3 linked regions of the Homo sapiens genome follow. The protein of the gene in region 3 purifies or fractionates together with the protein of the main gene of each other region. This does not show direct contact. Each region holds a gene or a part of one and is shown on either strand. Other genes may lie near its edges. The genes, in order: NXF1, AFG2A and NXT2.

The links.
Region 1: the proteins of NXT2 (region 3) and NXF1 purify together in Homo sapiens (co-immunoprecipitation; 6 studies listed by BioGRID and IntAct, with this or other methods). This does not show direct contact.
Region 2: the proteins of NXT2 (region 3) and AFG2A purify together in Homo sapiens (co-immunoprecipitation; 2 studies listed by IntAct, with this or other methods). This does not show direct contact.

The regions. Positions count from the first base shown.
Region 1 is NC_000011.10:62,791,841-62,795,591, forward strand, and holds the end of NXF1 (nuclear RNA export factor 1), read right to left. Parts: intron 3,168-3,751; coding exon 3,095-3,167; intron 2,601-3,094; coding exon 2,418-2,600; intron 932-2,417; exon of another isoform or gene 862-931; coding exon 801-861; intron 675-800; coding exon 636-674; 3' UTR 290-635; downstream 1-289. Other genes in the region: TMEM223 (transmembrane protein 223), read right to left, coding at 1-154.
Region 2 is NC_000004.12:122,933,037-122,936,787, reverse strand, and holds part of AFG2A (ATPase family gene 2 protein homolog A), read right to left. Parts: intron 3,350-3,751; coding exon 3,291-3,349; intron 2,692-3,290; coding exon 2,050-2,691; intron 1,075-2,049; coding exon 945-1,074; intron 689-944; coding exon 632-688; intron 1-631. UniProt on the Homo sapiens protein: ATP-dependent chaperone part of the 55LCC heterohexameric ATPase complex which is chromatin-associated and promotes replisome proteostasis to maintain replication fork progression and genome stability.
Region 3 is NC_000023.11:109,535,210-109,538,960, forward strand, and holds the start of NXT2 (NTF2-related export protein 2), read left to right. Parts: upstream 1-1,634; 5' UTR 1,635-1,727; coding exon of another isoform or gene 1,728-1,797; coding exon 1,798-1,812; intron 1,813-1,995; exon of another isoform or gene 1,996-2,192; coding exon of another isoform or gene 2,193-2,204; exon of another isoform or gene 2,205-2,495; intron 2,496-2,835; coding exon 2,836-2,922; intron 2,923-3,751. UniProt on the Homo sapiens protein: Regulator of protein export for NES-containing proteins. Also plays a role in mRNA nuclear export.

The sequences.
Region 1 (3,751 bases), on a different chromosome or scaffold from region 3:
AGAACAGCCCGAGGATGGTGAAGAAGCGGCCCCGATCATGCTCAAAGAGCAGCACATCCCGTTGCAGCGTCGTGCCTTGCAGGGGCCGGCAGGTGAGCAGGGGCCGCAGCACGGCTAGCAGCCCCGTGGGCCATCGCCTCCAAGGCGCCGCCATGGCCAGCCGACTTCCGGGGTGGGGCTTCCTGCCGCAGAGCCGCCTTCCGCCCTCCCTGGGCGCCCCCGCTAGAGGGCCCGCCCCCCTCGCTCAGGGCTGGGAGGAGACAACCAATCCAGCACGCAGAACACGAAATACAACATCACTCTTTATATTAAAAAGTGCAGAACACGAAATACAACATCACTCTTTATATTAAAAAGTAAGGAGGTCCTGGGGTTAAGTACACAAAGCACCTAAGTCCTTCGGGTAGTTTAGTGTCAGTTCTACAAAGTAAGCTTTGGCTTCCTGGCACCAGTGAGGCTCAATCTTCTGAAGTCTTCCAGAAGGCAGGCGAGGAGAGGGATCAGGCAGCCCTCCCTCCCTCGGTCACAGTCACGGGGCGGCCTCGGGCCAGACAGGAGGAGATGACAGACGACAACCAGACGGTAATATCCAAGGACTATTTACAGGGGGGACTGCTTCTGAGGCATGACTACGATCACTTCATGAATGCCACTTCTGGGATCTCGCCCTTGGCCTGGAGAAAAATGAAGGTCAGTAGAGGTAGGCCTACCCTCGCCACTCAGCAACCCCACTCAGCTAACCTGACCTCCTGGAGGCCCAGAGATCCTAGTCTTTTTGCCACTGTATTTCCAGACCTTACCTTGAGATGAGTGAAGGCCTGGGCAGATCTGGTGTAGTCCCAGTTGTTGTCCTGAAGGCACCTGGAGTGGAAGAACAGGCAGCTCTGTAAGAACTCTGACTCGTAAATGCCAGCTGAAAGTCCACTCCATAAAAGCACCCAAGTTTGCCAACAAATATGTACATTCTTATACATCCTTGCACTATTTATACAAATGAGACATTAGTAAAAGTCCAGATGTTCTACCAATGGCTTCTCAAAGATAAGGAATATTAAATAGCTGTCAAGAAGCTCAAGATAGTTTTTACAGTGGTAGGGAAAGATGTTCATGGTGTAAGTAAAGAAACTAAGTTGCAGAACAGTATATGAAAAGGAACTTCCATTTTACCTTTAAAGTTTTTTATGTTAATTTATACACAGGCAAATTTTTTATAGACTATCAGGTTTGTGTTTTTCTGTTTGCTTTTTTTTTTTTTTTGAGACCGAGTCTTGCTCTGTCACCAGGCTGGAGTGCAGTGGCGTGATCTCGGCTCACTGCAACCTCCGCCTTCCAGGTTCAAGCAATTCTCCTGCCTCAGCCTCCCGAGTAGTTGGGACTACAGGCGTGGAACGCCAAGCCCCGCTAATTTTTGTATTTTTAGTAGAGACGAGATTTCACCATGTTGTCCAGGATGGTCTTGATCTCTTGACCTCGTGATCTGGCCGCCTCAGCCTCCCAAAGTGCTGGGATTACAGGTGTGAGCCACCTCTCCCAGCCAACTATTAGGTTTTTTTAAGCAGCCAAAAGTTTTGCCTTTTAAAATTTCAGGAGCCCAGGCACAGTAACTCACACCTATAACCGCAGCACTTTGGGAGGCCTAGGTGGGCAACATGGTGAAACCCCATCTCTGCAAAGAAATACAAAAAAATTAGCCAGGTGCTGTGGCCTATGCCTGTAGTCCCAGCTACTCAGGTGGCTGAGGTGGGAGAATCACCTGAGCCCTAGCAGTTGAGGCTGCAGTGAACTGTGATCACACCACTGTACTCCAGCCTGGGCATCAGAGTGAGACCCTGTCTCAAAACAAACAAGCAAATAAAAATTTGGCTGGGTGCAGTGCCTCATGCCTGTAATCCCAGCACTTTGGGAGGCCGAGGTAGGCAGATCACAAGGTCAGGAGTTCGAGACCAGCCTGGCCAACATGATGAAAGCCCGTCTCTACTAAAAAAAAAAAAAAAAAAAAAAAATACAAAAATTAGCCAGGCATGGTGGTGTGTGCCTGTAATCCCAGCTACTCGGGAGGCTGAGATTGGAGAATTGCTTGAACCCGGGAGGCAGAGGTTACAATGAGCCAAGATCGCACCACTGCACTCCAGCCTGGGCAACATAGCAAGACTCCACCTCCAAAAAAAAAAAATAATAAAATAAAATAAGGTGGCACATGCCTATAGGCCCAGCTACTCTGGAGGCTGAGGTGGGAGGACAGCTTGTGCCCAGGAATTAGAGGCTACAGTGAGTTATGATCACCACTATACTCCAGCCTGGATGACAGCGCAAGAACTTGTCTCCAAAAAAAAAACAAAAAAACTGTCAGGAGCCCTCATTATTTACTACTAGCCCTACTTCAGTGCATCCCCATCCTACACATGCCCCGCACTCACTTCTGGGACCACTCGAGGTTCATGCCAGACTGGGTAGAGAATGCTTGCAACATTTCCTGCTGCTCTGGAGAGAGGGTGGGCACCGGGCTGGAGGAAGGCGTGGGTGCAGGCATAGCGAAGGCTCTTTGGATCTCTTCAGAACTGGCATTCCGCACAAATAGCTCATCATTTACAATACATAGCCTTGAGGACAAAGAGCACTTAAAAAGCTAGACAGAGATAACATCATCCTCCCAACATCATTCCTATTCTCTGATTCTTTCAATATCCACAAGGTCCCCCTCCCACTCTTAGCTATTGTTACCTTTTATCATTTATCCCCTCCCATGGAATCAATGTTTGGAAGGATTATCTACTAAACACACTAGGGTTCTCCCAACGCATGGACTTTAGCTCTTTTAATTCATCCTCACAACAAACTTAGGAAATGAATATTGTTATATGAATTTTCAGATGAGGCAGCAGCCTACTTGCTAGAAGTGGTGGAGCCAGGATGAAAACCCAGACGGTACAATTCCAGAGCCAAGCTATTAACTGGCTCTTAACTACTATGTGAGCTTTCTCTGATTTCCTGTTGCCTTTCTGAAATCACCCCAAAGACTGACTCTACCCTCCAATTACCACACTGTTGGCCATGGATTAGGACTGGTATCCAATGCGAAAAGCAGAATACTTACCCTGAATTGCTAGCAGGAACAGCAATGAATGTCCGGGTGAAGGCTCGCAAAGAATCCCGGGACTTTCCGTCCACTGCAATAAGAACAGCAACAACACCTTAGGGTCACTAGTGCTTTATGTTTACAAACAGCTTCTTGAATCATGGTCTTTGATATAAAGAATCCTAGCAAGTCAGAGAGGAATGATTAAGTATATAAGGGTATAAGGGAAGCACAGGTGGGGTGAAGGGTCAGGTCAGAAAGGACAATAGTAATAACTACGGCCGGGCACAGTGTCTCATGCGTATAATCCCAGCACTTTGGGAGGCTGAGGTGGGCAGATCACGAGGTCAAGAGATCGAGACCATCCTGTCCAACATGGCGAAACCCCTTCTCTACTAAAAATACAAAAATTAGCTGGGCGTGGTAGTGCGCACCTGTAGTCCCAGCTACTCGGGAGGCTGAAGCAGGAGAACCACTTGAACCCAGGAGACGGAGGTTGCAGTGAGCCAAGATTGCGCCACTGCACTCCAGCCTGGTGATAGAGTGTGACTCCATCTCAAAAAAAAGTAATAACTACTAATCCACTGATAGCATCTGTATGCCAGGCCCCAGGCCAAGCACTTTGTAAGTCACTTCAGTTTACTTCCTATAGCACCACTATGAGACGGCTATTAC
Region 2 (3,751 bases), on a different chromosome or scaffold from region 3:
GGCTGGTCTCAAACTCCTGACCTCAGGTGATCTGCCTGCCTCGGTCTCCCAAAGTGCTGGGATTACAGGCGTGAGCCACCGCACCCAGCCAATTATTTTTATTTTTAAACAGACAGGGTCCCACTATGTTGCCCAGGCTGGTCTCAAACTCCTGGGGTCAAGCAATCCTCCTGCCTTGGCCTCCCAAAGTGATGGTATTACAGGCATGAGCCACCACACCCAGCCAGAGTCATTATTTAATGGGCAAAAGATTTGTCCCTTTGAAGCAAAGTATAACATAACAAAGTTCTAGTATAAAGAGCTACATACAATAATACAGTCTACTAGAAAAGCTAAGCATATTAGAAACACCTAAGCACCTAAAGAAAGTCATGGATTTCTATGCTCAAACAAGGTCACATGACTTATCAAACACTATGTCTTAATTCTTCTACTTTATGTAATTTAATAATATTTATCAAACTTTTAAAGATTAGATAGAAATAGAATTTCATTAGATCTATAATCTACTTCTACCACTATCACTATAATTTTTGTACTACTGTTTATGCTTTGTATAAGGTGCTAGTATCTCACTTTGACTAATACAGCCTTGATTATTAATTCCAAAACATTTAAAAATAAAGAGTACCGTAGAGTGGCTTCAGCAAATATCTGACGTAACTTTGCTTCAGTCTCACCATAGAATCTGTAACAAATAAAATACATTTAAAGACCATTTCTTATTGTTTTTAAAGCTTTGTCTATAAAAGCTAACCTAAATTTTCAATATTTCTATAATACTTAAAATTACTTTCAAAAAGAATTTTCCAAACAATTTTTATTAAGAAGCAAAATATTTCAGTGTACAAAATATCACACAGAATACTACACAATCATTTTTAAAAACCACATTTTAGAAATATATTTAATAGTAAGTTTACTCTATTAAATCATGTACTTACTTGCTTATAATTTCAGGACCATTAATTACAGAAACATAGGCTCCAACTTCATTAGCAACAGCCCTGGCGATCATTGTTTTTCCAGTACCTGGAGGACCATAAAGTAACACTCCTCTAGGGGCAGGAATTCCTGGAAGAAAAAGTAGAAAACACTAGATTCACCATTACTAGGTTTCTTATAAATGTTGTCATACAAGTTCAAACATGAGTTATAAAATTTAACTTTACCTTGCGTCACAAAAAGAGTCAAGAGTTTTTTCTCCCCCTCCAGAAAGATGTACTAACTAGCCCAAACACTGATACCCAGCAATGACTTTCTCTCTCTGTAGACCACAGAACAGAGGAAGCATGTTGGTTAAAAAAAAAAAAAACTGGACACCCACATTGTTGCAACGCCCCATCCCACACAACACAGATCAATGATCGAAAAACCAAGCACAGACAACACAGGTAGACAAGCCACCAATCCCAGTTTTTTTCCAACTAACCATCTTGAAGAGTACATACGTTTGCTAGTATAAAAGGTACATAAGTATGAGCAAAATGCCAATCTAAGGGTTCATTTTACACATACATATATATACATACATGTATGTATATATAAGATTTATGAGAAAGGAAAAAAGCAGAGAGATCAGACACAGCAAATATATGCAAAGGATCTTGGCAATAACAATGCAGCAGAAGCCCTGAGTTTCCTGAGTCAAGCCATTCCCGTAATTACCTGCTTCAGTGCAAAGAGATGGGTACACAGTTACATTTCCTAAGAAGTTTTACCTAATGTATTTGAATGGTTTATCCCTTCAGTCATTACAGATGACCCAGCATGACAAGATACTTATTCTAGATCCAATACAGGTAATTGTGGAAATATGCTATTAGAAGAGACAAGGCTGTCACTAATTCACATTACAACCTAAAAATACCAAAGCATAGCAAATGGCCCATTTAACTGGCATCTCCCAAAGCAACTGAAATCTTCTACCATACCTACTACTCAGAAAATAAAAACAGGAAAAGAGGATGAGCAATCATTACATAAGTGTCAACTGTCTTTTAATTTGAATTTAACATTTTTGGGTGCAATAAACTGAAGACATCATACCATAACTCTTGAAAAGCTCAGGCTGTTTGAGGGGCAATTCAATTATTTCTCTAATTGCTTTCAGCTGGCTACTTAATCCTCCTATCATGTCATAAGTTACTTTGAATTGGTTGTCTTGCTCTTTTGAATTTTTATCAATCTCTGTAAAATTGACTCTTGTTGTTGAAGAAATAAAATAAAAAGTATCAGTATTGCACTTTGCTCCTATGCTGAACTTTAGCAGTCTCTCTTCTTCAGTAAGTTGCTCATTTCCTTCTCTGGCAGATTCAAAATTACATTTAAGACCTGTGACTTCCTCTAGCATAAGTCCACTGCCATCTCCAGGGCTCTGTGTAACATCCAGCAAAACATCACTGGCTTTATTTGTAATTCTGTCATCAATTGGTTTATAAGGAGTACTTCTTGATGTTGGGATCTGGGTATCCTCCAGATCTAACTGGCTTAGCTGTAAGGATAACTCCAGGCTACTGGTTTCCATGCTGGACTGTTCAAAGGCCATTCTTTGGGCATCAGTGTCAGAGTCACTCTGAGGCCCTCCCAATATCATGCCATCTGCCCCTTTCACTCGCAATACTTGCAGCTTGTACGGTCGTCCATAGAATGTACAATACAGAAAGTTGCCTGGTAAAACAATCTTGCCATCTAGAAAACAGTATATTAAATATACATGTTAGCATAATTTTTTTTACCAGTTTAATGTTTAAATAGCAATATATTTCATCTATTATCTGAAAAGACTAAATCAAAGACAGAGTATTAATAAAATAATTGTCATAAAAAATTGAGGACCTAATATTCCCCTATAACACCATCTGGAGACAGAAGGAAATGATTCTCTGAAATCCTCCACACTCAGTAGATCTCAGATTCTATCAATCACATCAACAAATAGCCAGGCATTCCATATTCAATAATAAACTAAATGAAAATGGCACACCCAAACCAACACTCCAAGATAGCATCTGTCACTGGAAAGGGCAAGAATGCAAAGGTTAAAAGTCTCAATTCTACCACTGACTCTTTCCACAGACAAGTCATATATTCTTTCCACTGCTCAACTGCCAATTAACCAGGAAAAGTAGCACATCCCTATCTTAAAAGTATATTCATTCATTGAGGGGAATATTCTCAAAGCTATTTTGAAGAAAACTACTATGCATATATAAGCCCTCAAAGACACTTTATTTGCTGATGCCTTGCAGCTTAAAACTTAAGAAAACAATTTAAAATATTTGTCTCACCTAGTTTTCTCAGGATACAACCAGTCAGTTCTTCTTCATTAATTTCCATATCTTTGTCACTGTAAAAGGATAAGAAGGGAACAGAAATCAGCATTAGGTACACCAGAAACTAAACTGTGATGTAAAATTACATGTATATGGTTATAATATAGACTTAATCAAAAGAATAATCCACCTGCAACCTTAAAATAAATAATGTATACAATTTTGAAATGATGGGCATTTTTCAGAAACATATAGCCATGAAAATATCATTTGGAATCTGGTGCCTTAGTGGCCTAAATCAATGTTCTTCAAAACACAAGGGTAATGAAATCATTTCAGTCAGCCTCATTCAGCACTTTGTTAATAGAATAAGAAATGCAGGGTACACTGAATATAGAAAGGGTAAATACTGCTTTGTAAAACATTAACTTCTAACACATACATACACACATGCACACATATGAGCACTATTATCT
Region 3 (3,751 bases):
CTAAAAAAAAGAAGAAGAGGAGGAGGAGGAGGAGGAGGGGAGGGGAGGGGAAGAGGGAGAAGGGTTGCTATAGGGAATGGTCAGAACTAAGCAAGTTACTTAGTATTTCTTTGTAACTCAATGTTATGTTTATTGTCTAGCACTCTCATTACACTTTGAGCCTCACAAGGATTCGAAACATGCCTATTTTATTCACCACTCTATATACAGAGCCTTGCACAATCTTTGGCACATAGTGAATACTTGATAAATATTTATTGAATGAATTATGATGAGGAGGAGAGCGGAACCAAAAAAATAAAGATTCCGAGAATTCAAGATAGGTGACTGGGAGAATATAAAAGTTTGGAAGTGCGGAGGAAATAATGAGTTTAAATTTTGGACGTACAAGTTTGAGAAGCCTATAGTGCAGTCACGTTCATGTTTAGCAAAATTATTATGTGTAATTGGAGCTCAGATAAGGGGTGGGGGCTTGGGATAGGTTGTTGAGATTCATTAGCATACGAGTAGCAATTTAGATCACCCTGAAGAAGGGAGGCTTTAAAAGGGGGGATGCACCGGAAGTGACGCCAGTCAGAGGTTAACGGAAAACGGAAGCTGGCTGGCTGAGAAGAAGCTTCCGTTAGTCCTACCTTGAAGAGAAAAGAGCCAGATAAAGAGAAAGATTAAAAGTATGAGAAAATACAGAAGCCACTGGTCTCAGGGAGACAGAGAAGGATACCAAAGAAGAAGTAACTATTATGAGGGGCCACACACCAGCCACTCAAGGTAAAACTACGACATCTAATTAATTTGCCATTTAAATCAGAAGTCATTGGCGGCTTTGGGATGAGAGGTTTTTAAGGGGTGTTGGGGAGCAAAGCCACATTGCCATGACAGTTATATTGCTTGAGTTTGAATCTCAACTAGTTTGTGACCGTAGGCAGATTTTACAGTCTTAGCTGTAAAATGAAGATGATAAAATAATAGCAATTACCTCAGCATTGTTATAATAAGTGAATATATGTAAAACTGATTAGAAAAGCACCTTACATATAGTCAGCACTCGACATTTTAGTTATTGTTAGAATACCTTGCAGAATAAATAGCCCTTAAAAGATGGTGAATAGCACTGTAAACTTAATTTTTGTTGGTGTCCGTGAGACATTTTAAAATGCCAGAATGGAGAAACCAGATGAACTTTTCCTGTTCAATGTGGCTGGGTTAAAATGAAATAGTAATTTTAGGCATACTGCCAAAACGTAGTAATTCAGTGAGGATGATCCTTCCAGAACGTTCCAGAATGCTAAATTGTTCACTAGTCACGCACGCCTTTCCCCAAGCTCTGCCCACTTATCCTATAGGCTACGGAATAGTAGGTCTCCTCGCATTTCTAATTGGTCTTCAGAGGGCTTTGGCTCCGCCTCCTGGGGCAAAAAAGTCCCTGTAATTGAACACTTTCATTTTTGCTTGTCCCCAGGCTTGTCGTTAGAAAAGTAGGGGACTTTCCTGTTGAGTATCATGTTTACAAAAGCAAAGTGGCTTTTAAATTTTAAACTAAGTATCAAACAAGTAGATAAGGTGGATGGGAGGGATCTTCAGGAACTGAAGGGAAGTGGAACTTAAGGTTGGAACATCGGTGTGCTTTTAACGACGGACCGAGCTACTTCCGGGAGAGAATGGGAGGGTGGAAAATTTTGTGCGTTTGGCGGGTTTCGCTCTCTTCATAAGTATTGATCATTCCGCAGCCCTGCGGACCGGACACGTGAGGAGGTAGTGACGCCGACACTGCCAGAACACACTGCTACAAGGTCCCAGATGGCCACGTCTCTGGTGAGTGCCTGGGCCGTGGCAGGACGGCTGGGCGCCGGACTCCAGTGGCTGAGAGGAGGGATTCCGGGGCGGTCTGGCTGCTGCTCACGTGGATAGGTGACGAATCACGTCCCGGCTCTCTGCACTGCGGGGCGGGGCCCACGCTTTGCTGCCCGCCCTGCCGGCCCCACCCCCAGCCTGGTTAGCAGTCGCTTTCTGATCCCGGAAAGGACCCTGAGCTGGGAAATAGCGAGAGGCGGGGATGTTGGGGTTTGTTGTTTATGGCTTGCAGTTTCTTTCTCTCGATTATCTTCCTCTCTAAAAATCACTTTCAGTCACCTGACAAAGAAACTGGCGATTCATTGTTCTTAATTTAGTAATAGACTGGGCCCCGTACATGAATGAGAAGGAAGGTATTCCTTAATTCTCCGGCACGAACGCCAACAGCGTTGCTTTCTTCGGTGTCACAGTTCTTAGGCAAACAGCAGTGAATATTTACGCAATGTGGGAAAGTTTCCTAAGTGGAGCTGCCGGTTTTTCAAGTAGTTGAACTACTTTCGTGTGTGTGTGTGTGTGTGTGTGTGTGTGTTTCCCATTCATCAACTTTGGAGTTTGGCTCTAACACCTCACTTGAAAACAGAAAACAATTTCCTAGCTTATTCAGTGGCAGTTTTTGCCGCTCTCTCTCCTTTTCTAAGGTTCAGGTGGTGTCATTTTCATTGCCGTGAATGTTTGTAAAATATTGAAAGTCTAAAGTGCTTAGTTGCCAAGAAAAGATTATAAATTTATATGTGGAGACTGAAAAAGACTCAGATTCATTGAGAAGATTATGTCCTAAAGACATGCACTTAAAATTAGTGAAAAATTTTAAAATTGCAAACTTCAGAGTCCGGCCTTTAAAATGTCTGAATTTATATGAAAGAATGTGGACTGTATATAGAGCTACATAGTGGTTGAAATAAATCATCAGCTTCTGTCAGTGGTTTTGTGTTTGTGAGGGGTTGAAAAGGTTGGTAATCTATACTTCTGGAATTTTTCTTGTAGGATTTTAAAACTTATGTAGATCAGGCATGTAGAGCTGCTGAGGAGTTTGTCAATATTTACTATGAGACAATGGATAAAAGAAGACGGGTGAGTGTTATAGACTCTACTACTCTTTATAGACTACTACTCTTTATTAAATACCAGGTTGTGTCTGGAGCCAGCGTTTCATCTGACTTGCATAAGTGGTAACTGTGGATTTACTCTTTAAAAGCAAATTGCTCAGGGAAGGATTGGTATGGCATTAGTGGGAACATGGGCTCTGGAATCATATCCCAGGTTTACTTTTACCTAGTTCTTTGACCTGGAGCAAGTTGCCATTTTCCCTTAACCTCATTTTATTTTCAGGTTGGTAAGTATGAATTAATTAAAATACCGCACTTAACATTAGGCCCAGCATATTTTCTTAAATATGTTTCCTTTTCTTAGTTCCATCAATTAACCAATATGGTTAAGGTATTATTAGTGCTAATGAAGGGGTGGGTCATTACGGGGAATATTTCCTGATTCGCCCCTTTTATTTCATATATTTATAGATAATTTCTGATCATGGCTCAAAAGTATAGCTTACACCCACAAAAAGTATGCATGTAGCATGGATAATATTAAGTCCTCAACAGACCGAGATTTCATCAGCTTTTTCATTGCAACTTATCCCTGCACCATATCTTTTACGTAATTATGTCAGTATGTGGTCAAGTGAGTCTTGCCTAGGTCTCTTACCAGCATAGAACTGTGCTTTGGAGAACTACTTCTGTCCTGCAGCTGCAAAAGTTAATACCCTATCTCTAAAAACCTATTTTTTATATAAAACCCATTTATTAAGCATAGGATTTTATATATATATATACTTTAAGTTCTGGGATACATGTGCAGAATGTGCAGGTTTGTTACATAGGTATACACGTGCCAAGGTGGT